2 separate regions of the Homo sapiens genome follow, and region 2 is linked to region 1. The links come from fine-mapping of genetic effects on gene expression. Tissue or cell type: thyroid. Region 1 holds a variant in brackets; the other region holds the start of a gene. All regions are shown on one strand. Distances are from middle to middle. Region 1 has its middle 8.5 kb from the start of PKHD1L1. Region 2 holds the start of NUDCD1 (NudC domain containing 1).

The links.
Region 2: it holds the start of NUDCD1, and the variant in region 1 is fine-mapped to the expression of NUDCD1 in thyroid (GTEx, PIP 0.96).

What each region holds. Positions count from the first base shown.
Region 1 is chr8:109,349,741-109,358,276 of GRCh38, reverse strand. No RefSeq gene overlaps it. Among named protein-coding and RNA genes, the nearest start is that of PKHD1L1, 8.5 kb to the left of the region's middle. The variant G/A (reference allele first, on the strand shown) is at 3,530.
Region 2 is chr8:109,330,770-109,338,769 of GRCh38, reverse strand. NUDCD1 (NudC domain containing 1) reads left to right here and starts at 4,683. Exons shown (of 10, transcript NM_032869.4): 1 at 4,683-4,877. The coding sequence starts at 4,760. It overlaps ENY2 (ENY2 transcription and export complex 2 subunit), which reads right to left and starts at 4,423. Exons shown (of 5, transcript NM_020189.6): 1 at 4,296-4,423; 2 at 2,566-2,642. The coding sequence starts at 4,301. RefSeq lists enhancers at 4,142-4,391, 3,657-4,579, 4,762-4,811, 4,942-4,991.

The DNA of each region.
Region 1 (8,536 bases):
GTGGAGATAGACAATAAATACAAAAATTAGTGAAATACATAGCATGTTCAAAACTAATAAATGCTAGACGGAAAATACTAAAGCAAGGAAGACAACAAACAATGTAACCTTGTTGCTTAATGCCTGGAAGGAGATGAAAGGTTTCTAATTGCTTAAGGGTGCAAATATGGGATGGTTCAAATAAAAATCATTAACTCTCCACTGGCAAATTTTCATGGAGTTACATAGCCCAGGTAATGTCAAACATATTTGACTGTTGAGACAATTGCTCAAGTGTGTTAAAGTCATTCATTATTGCTAACATGTTGTGCCATAACAAAGGTTTTACAAAGTTTGGTACCTTCTGTGAGTGTCAATGTTTCTTTCATTTACTTATTTATTTCCTTTAAATTCCTTTTTTGTACCTGGTGTGTTGTAAAATGGGTATTTGTGATTACTCCTTCATGAATATAGTGTGTATTTTAAAAATAACTGTGTGAAAACTGTGAATATCAGAAATGAGAATGATTATTTGTAGTAAGGCATAGACACAAAACGCCATGAAATTCCACGCTCAAAACTATTCACACTCCTAGAAGGGCATGGCTTCTGAACTCCTGCTGAAACCTTGTGTCTACCTGAGGTTTAAAGTAATAAAAAGTGCTAAAAAATGAACAAATTGAAAAAAAACTTGTCTTATTTCACTTGTCTTACAAATTTCTTGAATATCGTATAATTTACTTAATTGACAGCCAAATTACTTGTTTCTATGACATTTATCAAATTGTTAAAAGCCTTAAGCCGTGTAATATAGAGTTTCAAAATATCACTTGAATCAAATGTTTTATTTTATCATTATTTCTTATATTTTTTACAGAACCTATTTCAGTTTATATTGAAGAGAAGGATGATGATGAAGACTGGATTATAGCTTCGCTTGCATAAATGTGGTGGGACACCAAGGCCACCGTGTCTTTATTTATAAAATGTCTTGCCAATAGTAGATTTTTGTTATGCAAGAAAAATCTCAAGGTGTAAAAGCTAGGACACTTTGAAAACATGAATTCTCCATTTAGCAAAATTCTTTTTTTTTTTTTTTTGAGACGGAGTCTTGCTCTTTCGCCCAGGCTGGAGTGCAGTGGCGTGATCTCGGCTCACTGCAAGCTCCGCCTCCCGGGTTCACGCCATTCTCCTGCCTCAGCCTCCCGAGTAGCTGGGACTACAGGCGCCTGCCACCAAGCCCGGCTAATTTTTTCTTTTTTTCTTTTCTTTTCTTTTTTGTATTTTTAGTAGAGACGGGGTTTCACCATGTTAGCCAGGATGGTCTCCATCTCCTGACCTCGTGATCCGCCCGCCTTGGCCTCCCAAAGTGCTGGGATTACAAGCTTGAGCCACCGCGCCCGGCCAGCAAAATTCTTTTACTTAAGATCCTATAAAGTTGGAGAGACTTCAGTTCAGCCATGTGCACTGGAGATGCTCAAGCTGGTTTTTGCACTGGAATAGAGGAGAAATCTAGAAGAGGTGCTTTTGTCCAGTATGTTCATACATTGTAGAATTATTGAAATATCTTAACATTAAAATGAGCCATCAAAGGATTGATGTTCTCACCATTGCCCTTCAGTATTGCACCTGGCAAAATTCTGATTTTGTGAGTCTCTTTTGGAAACTAACCAGGCTGGTGACATTTTGGGAAAGGTAAAAAATTGTTTTATTGTTCTGGTTTGTTTTATATTCTTTTTCCAAGTAAAACATTGATTGGAAAAATTAAAGCATTATACACTCTTTACTTAATTGGTTCCAACAATGCTTTTCAATGTATCTGGTATTGTTACCTTAGTGACAATGAAATCACCTCATGCTGTCATTACTTGTTGTTTTTTACACAGACATACAATAGGAATAAAGGCTGTTTTTACAATCCTGAGAGAAGCTTTGTCACCAATCATAGAAGTCATCGACATTATTTAAAGTACCCCCTGAATTGTCGCATGTTTTAAAAATGATCAAGAAATAGGGCAACCAAAATATAAAGTACATTTTATCAAATAAAAGTTCACTGATTTCCAAGGGAGCAGGAGTTATTTATTTATAACTTGTTTGTGTGTGTGTGTGTGTGATGAGAACACTTGAAATCTTCTTTCTTATCAATTTCCAAGCACACAATATGTTGTTTTGAACTGTAGTCACCATGTTGTACAATAGATCCCTTGAAACTATTCCTCTGGTCTAACTGAAATGTTGTATCGATTGACCAACATCTCCCAAAGCCCCTCACCTCCAACTTTTGGTAACCAACATTCAACTCTCTGTTTCTATGAGTTCGACCTTTTTGCATTCCACATATAAGTGAGATTATGCAGTATTTGTCTTTCTGTGCCTGGCTTATTTCACTTAACATAATGTCCTCCAGGTTCATCCCTGTTGTTGCAAATCACAGTTTTTTTACTATTTTTAATGGCTGAATAGTATTCCCTTGTGTATACATACCATATTTTCTTCATTCATTTGCTGATATATACTTACATTAATTCCATATCTTGGCTATTGTGAATAATTCTGAAATGCACATGGGAGTTCAGATGTATCTTACAAATCCTTATTTCAATTCCTTTGAATGCATACCCAGAAGTAGGATAGCTAGATCATATGATAGTTCCATTTTTAATTTTTTGAGGAACTTCCATACCATTTTCCTTAATGGCTGTACTGAATTACATTGCTACCAACAGTGCACCAGGATTCCTTTTACTCCAGATTCTTGTTAACAGTTGTTATCTTTTGTCTTTTTTATTATAGCTATTCTCACAAGTGTGAGGTAATATGTCATTGTGGTTTTATTTGCATTTCCCTGATGATTAGTGATGTTTTTACTGAAGCTCAGACTATGAATTCTTGACTCTCAAGTAAATAGAAATGAACACCAGACCAAACAGAATTTTTTCTTAGGCAAGGGTTTTTTTTTTTTTTTTTTTTTTTTTTTTTTGAGACGGAGTCTTGCTCTGTCTAGGCAAGGTTTTAATAGGCTTCCAGGTCACACAAAGCAAGCAGAAATGTACAGAAAATGGATCTCAGTGCCGGCTCCCCAAAGGGCTTGGCTCTTGTCATTTTAAGGGAGCTAAGGCGAGAAAAGGAGCTATGTGTAGGCATATAGAGGAAGGAAACTTTTAGCACCTGCGCAGTTTGATAACATATTTCTTCATGTGTCGTATGTGTCATTAGCATGCTAAATCCCCACCCCTGGATGTGATTTGCAGTATTACAATGAGGGAAACTTCATGCAAGATCAGTGCTGGAATTCATTCATCTTGTCTTCGGCTGGCTGGATCTGGTCTGTTTATTGTTGGGAATGCCAGAGTCTCACTTCAGTAACCTTGGAAGACATCACTCAAAGATATAAATGGTCAGTTTCTTCTTTTTATGGTTAGGGATTCAGCCAGGTCAGCTAAGTTAGGAAGAGGCAGCTTTCTACTCCCTGACTTTGGTCAGCTTGTTAAGGGAGGCAAGAAGGTATGGCAGGGAAATGCCCAGACATTTGAGGCCTATGGAGTGG[G/A]GGTGAGGAGATCTGGGTTACTATGTCACTTATCTGCCAGGACCGAGTTTCTTTCCTATACTGGCTTAATGTTGAACACCTTGCTGTATACCTGTTGGCCATTTGTATGTCTTCTTTGGGGAAATGTCCATTTAAGTCCTTGGTTATTTTTAATCTGGTTGTTTGTTTTCTTACTGTTGAGTTATAAGAGTTTCATATATATTTTGGATATTAACCCCTTATCAGATGTACAGTTTGCAAATATATTCTTCAATTTAATAGATAGTCTCTTCACTCTGTCGATGTTTCCTTTGCTGTGAAGAAGCTTTTTAGTTTGATGTTAGCCCATTTGTCTTTTTTTTTCCTGTTGCCTGTGCTTTTAGAATTATATCCAAAACGAAGTATTGCCCACACCAATGTCATCAAGCTTTTCCCCAATATTTTTTTTCTAGTGGTTTTATGGTGTCAAGTCTTACATTTAAATCTTTATTTTAGTCGATTTTTGTTTATGGTATGAGATGAGGGCCTAATTGCATTCTCCTGCATGTAGATATTCAGTTTTCCCAGCCCTATTTTTGGAAGGCACTGTCCTTTCTCATCATTTGTTCTTGGCATTTTTCTTGAAAATCATTTGACCATAAATATATGAATTTATTTTGGGAGTGAGGGGTATGATTTAAGAGCTTGTTTAAGTTAAGGGCAACTACTTAATGTTTCTTAAAGAAAAGAAATTCTGCATTCAGAATACTTCGAAAAAAACTATTGATGCATGGGTTGGCTTACCTGGCAATTATTTTTAGCCACATGGATGGGCTAAAATTTTCAAGTTCATTAGGCTTTCTACTTTAAATAATATTATAATCTTTCCAGAATATGTAGCTGATTTGGAATATCAAAATAGAAACTGACATCTTTGCCAAACTTTGAAATGTTTTACCCTTAGCTAACTATCAATTTCTTTGAAAGAGATATCTATAAATATCTGGAAACTGTTTAGTACCCTTTTGGAAGTTACTTCTATCTTAATTGTATTAAAGTTGAACTATGAATCCAGAATCCTTTCCTTTCTGATATAAACTGTAATTGAAAGCATTGTCCTAGTCTATAATCTTTGATCTTAGGCTCAAAAACATTATAGGTAGGATATAACTCAAAAAACCTTTGAGGATTCTGATATCTTTTGAGGCAAGCTTATCTTGGCCTTGTAAAATAAGCTTAAAAAACTTTAATTTAATGCTATGATCTAAATGTTTGTATCCTCCCAAAATTTGTGTATTGAAAGTGATGGTATACCAAAGTTATGCTGTTAGGAGGTGGGGGCTCTTGAAAGGTGATTGGGTCATGGAAAGCCCACATGAATGGGATTAGTGTCCTTATGAAATAGGCCCAAAGGACCTCATTCACGCCTTCCACCATGTGAGGATGCAGTGAAAAGATTCTTTCTATGAACCAGAAGATGGCATTCATCAGACGCTAAATCGCTGGCACCTTGATCACCAATTTCCCAACCTTCAGAACTATAAGAAACAACTTCCTGTTTGTAAGTAATACATTTCTGTTGTTTATAAACCACCCAGTCTATGCTATTTTGTTATAGCAGTCCAAATGAAGTAAGATATCCTTTTTGCTACAAACATACACACACACACACACACACACACACACAATCTTAACTAATCAAGAGTTTCAATACTTACAAACATTAAAACAAAAATTTGAAATTGACGACATATCCTGCATAACAGTAACAAGCATGTTGTCCTGTCAATCACAACCCTACAGTGTAATGTTCTTATCCAAGTTAAGAAACAACTTTACCCTGATTTTTTTAAAATAAGGTACAATTTTAAAGTTACTCGTATTTAAAATATATTGTCTTATTTTTGTGTTAATAAAGATGAATATCATGCATTTATTTTGAAATATTTGATAACTATAATTTTAATATAATTTGTTTCCTGTATAATTCTACAAATTTTATTATGTGTATTTAAACATAATATTCTGAGAAAGAGTTCATAGTCTTCACTTGACTTCCAAAGGGACTCAGAAAAGGTTAGGAACAACTGATTTAGGCAGAGGGTAAAGATACAAAAGAAAGTGGGTCATAATATTAGGATTTGGAAAACTCCAACAGTTAGAGGTCTAGCAGAAGACAGGTTAGCAAATAAGACTGACAGACAGCAGCCGTGGGTGAGAGGGGAAGCAGAACACTATTGCAGTACAGAAATTAAGAGAAGAACGCATCTGAAGATGTAGAATCATCACTTGTTATCAATGCTTTTGGGAGGTTGAAGAGGGTGATAATCTCTCTTGACCTAGACATAGATTCCATGGAATGGTGATTTCCATGAGGCCAAATTGAGGGAGTTGAGTGGGAGGTGAAGGAGTAGAGACAATCCAATTAAAAACTTTTGCTTATAATGGGAGCAGAGGAATGGGGCTGTTCCTAGAGGGAGATACGTGATCAAGACATGGTTTTTATAAAAGAATGTAGTTACCAGGCCAAGTGACTATGCTGCTATGGCTGATGTAGCAGAGGGTTAAAATTCTAATGGAAGAGAGGGAGGGACAACTGTAAGAGAGAGATCGTTGAGAAGAAGAGAGGTGCTGGAATCCAGGGGACAAGTGGAGGCAAGGTTAAATGTATGGGTCCAGATTCAGGAAGACTGGTAAATTTGGTGATGGGATCATGCCAGGTTCTTGTCAGATTGCTGCTGTTGCCTTGATAAGCATGAGGCAGTGTTATTAGTGCTGGAGAGAAGTGGGAAACAGGCATTTTGGTGAGTAGGAAAGTGTATACCCTAGGAAAATGTACTGGAGTTCTTGGGCAGGAAAAAAGTGTTCATTTGAGGTTGTGACCATTATTTCTTTTCAAACCATGTTCATGGCTTAGACTACCTAATTCTGTTAAACTGTCCATACTACTCAAAGGAATATACATATTCCATGCAATCCCATTAAAATTTCAATAATATTTTTCACAGAAACAGAAAAAGCAAGCCTTAAATTCAAAAGATACCACAGAAGACCTGAAAAGCCAAAGCAATCTTGAACAAAAAGAACAAAGCAGAAGTCATCACATTTCCTGGTTTCAAATAATTTTATAAAGCTATAACAAATACAGTAATCAAAAAAGCATCATACTTTGGGAGGCTGAGGTGGAAGGATCACTTGAGCCCAGGAGTTTGAGATCAGCCTGAGCAACATATGGAGACCTGAGACCACAACTCCACAAAAAAAGTTTTTTTTGTAAATTAGCCAGGTGTAGTGCCACATGCTACTTGCAGTCCCAGCTACTTGTGAGGCTGAGGTGGGAGGATCACTTGAGCCTGAGATGTTGAGACTACAGTAAACCATGATCATGCCACTGCACTCCAGCCTGGGTGGCAGAAGGAGATCCTGTCTCAAAAAAAAAAAAAAAAAAAAAGAAAGAAAGAAAGAAAAAAAGTGTCATGCTGGCATAAAAAGACGTGAGCCAATTGAACAGAATAGAGAGCCCAAAATAAACCCATGCATGTACAGTCAACTAATTTTTGAAAAAAATGCCAAGAATATAAAATGGGAAATAACAGTCTTTTCAATAAATTATGCTAGGCAAACTAGATGTGCACATGAAAAAAGAAAAAACTGTTTAATCCATATATCTTAAGTACCAGGAAATCAACTCAAAAGTTGATTAAACACTCAAAGACAAGAAACCGTAAAACTAGAAGAAAACAGGGAAAAGGCTCCTTGGTCTTGGCACTGATGTTTTGGATATGATGCCAAAATACAGGCAAAAATAAACAAGCGAGATTACATCAAATTTAAAAGCTTTCTTGCAGCAAAGAAAGCAATCCCGAGTGTAATGGCAATCTATAAAATGAAAGAATGTGTTTTCAAACCATATATTTGATAAGAGGTTAATATCCACAATATCAGGAACTCCTACAACTCAATAGCAAAAAACAAACAACAATAAACCAACCCAATTAAAAAAACAGACAAAGGACCAATAAATATTTCTCTAAAGAAGAAGACATAGCAGTGGCTAAAAGCTGTATGATGAGGTGCTAAACATCACCATCAGGGATATGCAAATCAAAATCACCATTTCACCCCACAACTTTTAGAATGACTATTATCAAACAGTCAAAAGATAAGTGTTGGCGAGAATGTGGAGAAAAGGGAACCCTGATACATTGTTGGTTTGTATGTAAATTAGTACAGCCATGATGAAAAACTGTATGAAGATTTTTTTCAAAATGTTAAAAAATAGAACTATGATATAATCCAGCAATTCCACTTCTGGGTATATATCCAAAGGAATTGAAATCAGAATTTTTTTTTTGAGACAAGATCTCATCTGTCCCCATGCTTGAGTGTAGTGGTGCAATCATGGCTCACTGCAGCCTTGACCTCATGAGCTCAAGCAATCCTCCCACCTCAGCCTCCCAAGTAGTTGGGACTATACGCGTGTGCCACCATGCCCAGCTAGTTTTTGAATATCTTGTAGAGATGGGATTTTGTCATATTGCCTAGGCTGGTCTGGAACTCCTGGGCTCATGCGTTCTGCCCACCTTGGCCTCCCAAAGTGCTAGGATTACAGGCATGAGCCACTGCACCCAACCAGGATCTTCAATATGTGTCTGCACCTCCTGTCGATTAAAGCATCATTCACTGTAACCAAGATATGGAATTACCCTAAGTGTCCTTCGATGGATAATGAATAAAGAAAATTTAATACACACATCCACATTAATCTACCCACTCTCCTCCACACTAGAATTATTCAGCCTGAGAAACGAGGGAAATCATGCCATTTGTGAAAACATGAATGGACCTAGAAGATATAATGTTTAAGTGAAAAAGCCAAACACAGAAAGATAAATACTATATGATCTCACCTATATGTGGAATCTAAAATAGTCAAACTGATAGAAGCAGAGAGTAGAATGATTGTCAGGGGCTGGGGTGATGGGGAAACGAGAAGATGATGGTTAAAGTGTACAAAGTTTCAGTTATGTAAATTCTAGTGATCTATTA
Region 2 (8,000 bases), 19 kb after region 1:
CCACATTTTAACGATTCAGTAATTGGCATGCCCCCAGTGTTTTCTTTCTCTCGATGGCAAAAAAGTGGCAGTGTATATGCAACTAATGGCATCACAGGTGCAATAAAATATTTTCTTATCCTTTTGCCATATCCACTTTTACAAATCTTCAATCCTCAACCTAAATCATTTAACTTCTCAGGTTAAAAATGTCACATCCCAAACAAATTCTCTTTCCCTGCAAACCACTTTCACTATCCCTAGACATCCACTATGTGACATTCTCATCTTAATATTTAATTAGGTCTTTCAATCTTAATAGGGCCAAAATCCAACTTTTGATTTTCTACCAATTCATCCTGTTTGTTCTTCTTCTGAGAATGGCAATTCCATTCTTCTGGTTCCTCAGACTAGGAATCTCTGTAGTATCCTTCCACTCAGCTGCCTTGTTAACACTACACATCCAATTTATGAGCAAATCCTATTGGGTTCAATTTAAAACATATACCTAGAATTCACCTTTCTCACTATCTCCGCCATTACTACTCTAGTTCAAGCCATCATCTCTTCTCTAGAATATTACCATAGCATTCTAGGTTGTCTCCCTGCTTCTTCCCTTGTACACTTAGTTCTTCTCCTGCTGCTCAAAAACCTCCAGTGCCTTCCCAATTTACTCAGAATAAAACTCCAAGACTTTATTACAGCCTACATGATCCTTCATGATCTGCCTTCTCCCCAGCTATGCCACTGACTTAATCTCCACTCTCCCTCACCCAATTTACTCAGTCTCCCTAGCATCCCTGTGCTCCTCAAAAATGAAAGGCAAGCTCCTATCTCAGGAACTTAAAGAGTCCCTGCTCACCCTCATATCCTTCTGATTTTTTTTTTTTTGAGACGGAGTTTCACTCTTATCACCCAGGCTGGAGTGAAGTGGCGCGATCTCAGCTCACCGCAACCTCCGCCTCCCGAGTTCAAGCGATTCACCTGCCTCAGCCTCCTGAGTAGCTGGGACTACAGCCCATCACCATGCATGGCTAATTTTTGTATTTTCAGTAGAGATGGGGTTTCACCATGTTAGCCAGGATAGTCTCAATCTCCTGACCTTGTGATCTGCCAGCCTCAGCCTCCCAAAGTGCTGGGATTACAGGCGTGAGCCACTATGCACGGCCTCCTTCTGATTTCTTCTTTGTTTTTTCTATCTAAAATATTACACCTCTTTATTTTCTGCTTTATTGTTCCTCTAGTGCTCATCACCATCTGACATTATTACACAGTTTTATCTGTCTCCTCCCATTAGAATGCAAGCTCTGTGAAAACAAAGTCTCCATTTTTGTCTACTACTGTTACCTCCAACACCTTAACAGGGCATGGCATATGATAGAAACTCAGTAACTTGAAGCTGCATGAATCAAAAACAAACAACAAAAAAAAAAAACAACATACAATCCGTACTCCTTACCAGCAGTACTATCCTCTAAAGCTACCCAAGGCAGTTATCGATGCCTCCTTCCTCATTTTGAGGGTTGCTGTTTCTACATTTTATTAAAATTCTAAGGTCTCCTTCCAATTTTTGGAGTTTTCCATTTTCAACCCTATATAATCTTCTACCTCATTTTTCTGCCATCTATCTTGTCCCCTTCAAGTCCAAGCTCCACACCAACAGAGTAAGATTCCTAAAGTGTAAATGTGATCTAGTCATTTCCTTTCTTAAAACTTTAAATGACTCCCATCATCCAAAAATAAAGTCAGCAACAGATGCACCTCTTTTTCTTATTGTGTGAGATCTTACATGATCACCTGAATGCCCGGGTTGAGTTGAAAGATTCCCCCTCTTCCTTATACATATTTGCCTCTTCCTTATACATATTTGTCTTACTCACTTTATAACCCTGCCTCTGGGAGCCTTTCTTGATTCCTCAGCCCCTTCTTTGTACTTCTAAACCTGTTGATTCTGCAAATATTTACGTGGCCAATTATGAACCAAACAAAGCATTAGATGCTGGGTATACAATGTTGTTTTTGGTGTTAAAGAACTTAGATTATACTGGAGGATACAAACTAGCCAAGTAGATTGTTAGAACACAATGTTGATTAAATGCTATGATGGAACAAGGTATTTGGGACTTAAAAACATTCCTTGAAGAGACAATATATAAATTAGACCTGATAGTTGAGCTAGAATTAGCTAAAAAGGAAGAGAAGGAAGAATGTTTTAGAGAGTGGAAACAGCACTTGCTGCTCCAAGGTTGAGAGCTTGGTAAATGAAGCTGGTTCCACAACATTGTCTCCCTGTTAAAACCCAGGTAACATTATGTCTCCAGTTGTAATTCAGGTATGTACTTTTTCTTCTCCATCAAATTACTCTTTAAGAGCCATATCTTGCTCATCTTTCTACATCACCACTTCCCTCCAAGTCCTGCAATACTTAACAAACCTAAATTATTTTTTCCAGATGTTCGGAATAGAAACTTTTATAATCTCAATTGTAATTCTTTCCAGTGACATGTTTCATTTCTTGTTTAGATTCTTACAAGCTAACTATTAAAGGCGGTGAAATGTAATTTATTAACACAATCTATTACTTACCGTTCTCTTTCTCCAGTTTCTATCAACTTTTGGTTAATCGCTGCTCTCATCTGCGCATCTTTGTTCATCTTGCTAACCTGGACATCAACATGTACTTTCAGATATAGAACATTTACAAAGCATTTTCTGCTAAATCCTCTAGGCAGGCATCCTAACATGTTTACCATTCTATTAACTGAAGGGGTGATACATTTCAAGTGTGTTAATAATATCATTACTCTTTATTAAACACTTATGTGCTTGGCACTGGGCTAATGCAGTGTGGGTTTGCTTTTTTTTAAACATCACATTTAATTCCCAGAACGTATTGTTACATATTTATATTAATAAAATAATCTGTATTTTACTGATGAGGAAACTGAGGCACAGAGATAGAAAGTGGAAAGGCAAAATTTGAACTCAAGTACTTTGACCCTAGGAGCTCCAAAACTGAACATAACTGCCGATCACTTCTGCAGAGACTGCATCCAAAAATTGGGAGAAGTCATACATACTAAACATCAAAAAAAGATTAAATACTATTAGTAAAAAAATAAAATTACCAGGCCGGGCACAGTGGGTCACACCTGTAATCCCAGCACTTTGGGAGGCCCAGGCAGGTGGATCACGAGGTCAGGAGTTCAAGACCAGCCTGACCAAGATGGTGAAACCCCGTCTCTACTAAAAATAGAAAAATAAGCTGGGCTTGGTGGCAGGTGTCTGTAATCCCAGCTACTCAGGAGGCTGAGGCAGGAGAATCGCTTGAACCCAGGAGACAGAGGTTGCAGTGAGCCGACATTGCGCTGCTGCACTCCAGCCTGGGTGACAGGGCAAGACTCTGTCTCAAAAAAAAAAAAAAAAATTAATTAATCAAAAAAAATAAAATTACTAGATAAGGCTCTAAGTGTTTTGCTTTACTCTTCACTAGGATGAACCCACAATTACAACTGCTAAACCTAAGTGTGTGGATGTGTGTGTTTACACACACACTGCTGGTGGGATAAGAAGAAAACAAATCTCAAACTAATTCCTAACTTACAAAGTCCTCAATTGTCAGTAAAAACAGACAACCCAAACCAAAATGATGTTGAAAGAAGAGGAAAGTTAGGTTTTGAAAGCGTTAAAGCCACTTAAAAGTTTAAATTAAATAAAACTTGGCGTAAACTAACGTTTTCCCACCTAATCTGTCACTAACTTGAGATTACTTTTGTTGTCTTCCATCTGGCCTATTGAAAATTCAGACTGGCAATGAGTTACCAGAGTTGATTTTTTTTTTCTTTTTTGAGAGGAACAGGGAAAAGGAGAAGTTGAGTGAGAACTAGGAAATGCTTGCTTTTGTAATTGGAGGCTAACATTTTCAAAATAACTACAAGGTCTAGTCAGTACCACTCCTGGAATATTGAACTTGATCTCGTCTTGGCTCCTAAAATACGGATAGTGACCTTGGACAAGTCACTTAATTCTTAAAGGCCTCAGTTTTCTCACTGGTAAAACAAGGGCGCTAGGGTATCCCTCCCAGTTCAGACATTCTTAGGGAAAATAGAACAGGGCGGAGACAGCGGGAGAGGCGGGAGAGGAGGAGCCAGAAAACAAAGCGAGGACTGGTTTCAGGCCAACTCCGGTAGCACGCCCTGTCGGAGAGCCCTACAGGCCCGCGAGCGCGGGTCGGGGACGCTAACGAAAGACAGTACATCGAAAGGAGCCTGGGCTGGGCCCGGGTCCCGGCCCTGAGGACCACGGGCATAGCTCACCACCATCACCGCGGGCGAGGGCCGTCCCTTCCCAGCGACGAAATGACCCTTGCGCTGAGGACCGTTACCTACCACACTCTTCGGCTGCCCGGACTTAGACCCTCAGTAGCTCGGGCACCTAAGCACACAGAAAGCTAGAACACGCATTTCCGGGGCGGGGTCTCGCCACCCTGCCTATAATGTGAGAATTTAACCAGCGCGGGCCGCCTCCTGGTTGCTAGGGCCTCTGGGTAACAGAGTTCAGACCTTGCCGTCGCGCGCGCGTTAAGTACCAGGAGAACTACATAGCCCAGCATGCAACAGTCTCAACTTTTTCACGGACACTACATTTCCCAGAAGGCAGTTCGCACCGCAGTGTTTTCTGGGATGGGAACCACGCCGCTTCCCAGTCTCTGTGCGAGGCGTGAAGCGCGGACCTTTCAACAAGGGCTTTATTAATTCTCACGCTGCGGCCCTGGAAAGCGATGGAGGTGGCGGCTAATTGCTCCCTACGGGTGAAGAGACCTCTGTTGGATCCCCGCTTCGAGGGTTACAAGCTCTCTCTTGAGCCGCTGCCTTGTTACCAGCTGGAGCTTGACGCAGGTGGGAAGCGGCGGCGCCCTTCGTACTCCGTTCCTTTCCCCTTTCGGCTGCCTCCGGCCTGACCCTTCCCGCAATTTCTTTCTTTCTGACTGGCAAGCGAAGCCACCGTGGCGGCTTGCGTGGACTCACGGAGGCCGCTGCTTCTGGGGAATGATGCCCATCCCAGAACCCGGTGGGAGCCGCCTTCGCGCGCTCTTCGGTAACGGGACCCTGGGCCCCCTCCGTCAGCAGCCCAGCCTCTGAGGTCTGAGGTCTGAGGGCTGGCGTGCGGGTAGTGCCTGGGGCTCTGGCTGCTGTGTGTCCACAGCCTGGCTTCTGTTTCGGGGGACGCTGAGAACATTCCTTCCTCCTGGAGCATCGCTTGTGAACGTGTGCGTTGAGAAACCACACCTCCTTGGAGGACCCCCAGTTCCTGTTTCCTCTGACCGAGAGCCGTTTCTTAGAAGAGAAACTACATTCCAGTCATAGCATTTTTAATTACTCAGTTCCTGGCACATTAAGAACTCTGGTAGAGAACATCTCTAGAAGATAGTGAGGAAAAGTGGATTTACTCCCACACTGCTACTCCTTGCTTTATCTGTAGCTGGTAGAATATCCTTACTCTTGTTTTTACAACTTAACGGCATTTTCGTTATGATAGAGCCCAGAGATCTGCATTTTAAAATTCACACCCCTGCTGATTCTGATGCATGTTTTCAGAGATCACACTTTGAGAAATAGTGATCTACAGTTAATTATAATAACAGACATTAAAGTATAAAATAAGTTTATGCTAATTGATTTATTAAATTCAGAAATATTTACCGAGTACCTGTTTTGTGTTACGTCCTGATAATATCAAAATGAACAAGACACCTTCCGTAACAAAAGAGGACTATTAGCTAGTTAGGAAGAAAATTGTAAACAGATAATTGTAAAACAATATGGGAAGGCAGTGATAGGGATATGTACAAAATACAATGGTAGTACTTGAATATCTTTCCTAAACTAGTCTGGGGATCTGGGAAGGCGTCTTGGAGGAGTTAATATCTAAGTTGAGCTTTGAAGGGTAGGTTAAGAGTTGACTAGGATGAGAGAGGATAAGCTTGATTTTTCTTTTTATTTTTTTCCTTTTCCTCTTTGCCACCGTGTTTCTTCCAGTCACCCCATGTCAGTAGATGGTATCACCATGTTTAGTTAGTGCATTAGAAAGTGAAGCCAAAATTCAGTGTCTCAAAACAAGAAGCAGTTATTATTGCTCACAAGTCTACGGGTCAGCTGAGTGGTTCTTCTAGTCCTAGTTGGGCTCATTGATGCATCCTTGTTCAGTAATGGATCTGCTGGGAAGCTCTGCTCATTTGGCTGGACTTCCTCATATGTTTGGAGGGTGGGGGTAGGGTCTCAGACTATAAGCTTGTTTAAGATTCTTTCACATGGTCTCCTCTTGACTTTTCTCCGTGTGGTCTCTTATCCTTTAGCCGACTAGACTAGCCCAGGTTGGTACCAAGAGACACTTGTGCCAGAGTCATTTGGGGTTTATTTCTTTTAGCCACTGTCTGCTTGGTAGCAAGTCCGGTCAGCTCCACATTTTGATATCTCTAGGCCTCCACCCTAATCCAAATCAGAGTTATCTCTTACCTGAACTCTAGTAGCCTCCTGACTAGCCTTCCTGCCTTCACTTTTGGGCTTCGTCATTGCATTCTCCATAAGACGTACTTATCGGCCTTTTAAATTCTATCTTGATTTGTTGTCTGTTTCCTCCACTAGACTATGAGTTCCTTGAAAACAGTGATGTTTTTCTTTTGTTCACTACCCTATATCTAGTGCTTGGCACATAGGATGTATTCAATAAAATGAGTATATGAAGAAGAGAAGAAATTGTTGAGGTCATTCCATTCATGGGAAAGCATGAGGAAAGGGAAATAATTAGTAGGTTGTATGCTGGACATCCTTGCACTCTTATATTGCTGGAGCAAAACGTCTGGGAAAGTGAGAGGAAATAAATCAGTGAGGGCCTTGTTTGCCTTTTGGATTTCTTGGATTTCCGGTCATTCAGTGTTTCCCTGACATTTTTGTATTGAGCCATTACAATATAAAATAAAACTCAGCTGCTGTAGTTCTGCCAACTTTTCTGTTTACTAGGTGGAGATGTTTCTTAAAAACTATCATTTACTCATCTATCTTTTCATAAACAAAAGGATATTTTAACACCAAAAAAGCAGGAAGCAAAATCTCACAATAAACAATCCATTGAATACTTTAACTTTAGAAAAAATTCACAAAGTTGTCCTTGTTCCGTACTCATTTCATCAGCGTTAATCTTAGATTCTGTGTTTGGGATGTACAGCTGCAGGATATCAGGTGCCATTTGAAGATTTTTTTTTTTTTTTTTTTTTTTGAGTCTGAGTCTTGCTCTATTGCGGAGGCTGGACTGTAGTAGTGTGATCTCGTCTCATTGCAACCTCTGCCTTCCGGGTTCAGGCGATTCTCCTGCCTCAGCCTCCCGAGTAGTTGGGATTACAGGCGCCCGCCACCATGCCCAGCTAATTTTTGTTTGTTTCTTTTTGTTTTTGTTTTGTTTTTTGAGACGGAGTCTCTGTCGTTGAGGCTGGAGTGCAGTGGCGCGATCTCAGCTCACTGCAACTTCCGCCTCCCGGGTTCAAGCAGTTCTCTGCCCCAGCCTCTGGAGTAGCTGGGATTACAAGTGCCCGCCACCAAGCCCAGCTAATTTTTGTATTAGAGACGGAGTTTTACTATCTTGGCCAAGCTGGTCTTGAACTCCTGACCTCGCGATCCACCTGCCTCGGCCTCCCAAAGTGCTGGGATTAACAGGCCTGAGCCACTGCTCCGACCGATTTTTTTTTTTCTTTGAAGTTCCGGGGTACATGTGCAGGATGTGCAGGTTTGGTACATAGGTAAACGTGTGCCATGGTGGTTTGCTGCACCCGTCAACCCATCACCTAGGTATTAAGCCCAGCATGCATTAGCAATTTTTCCTAATGCTCTCCCTCCCCCTACCCCATTCTCTGACAGACCACAGTGTGTGTTGTTCCCCTCCCTGTGTCCATGTGATCTCATTATTCAGCTCCCACTTACAAGTGAGAACATGTGGTGTTTTGTGTTCTGTTCCTTCGTTGGTTTGTT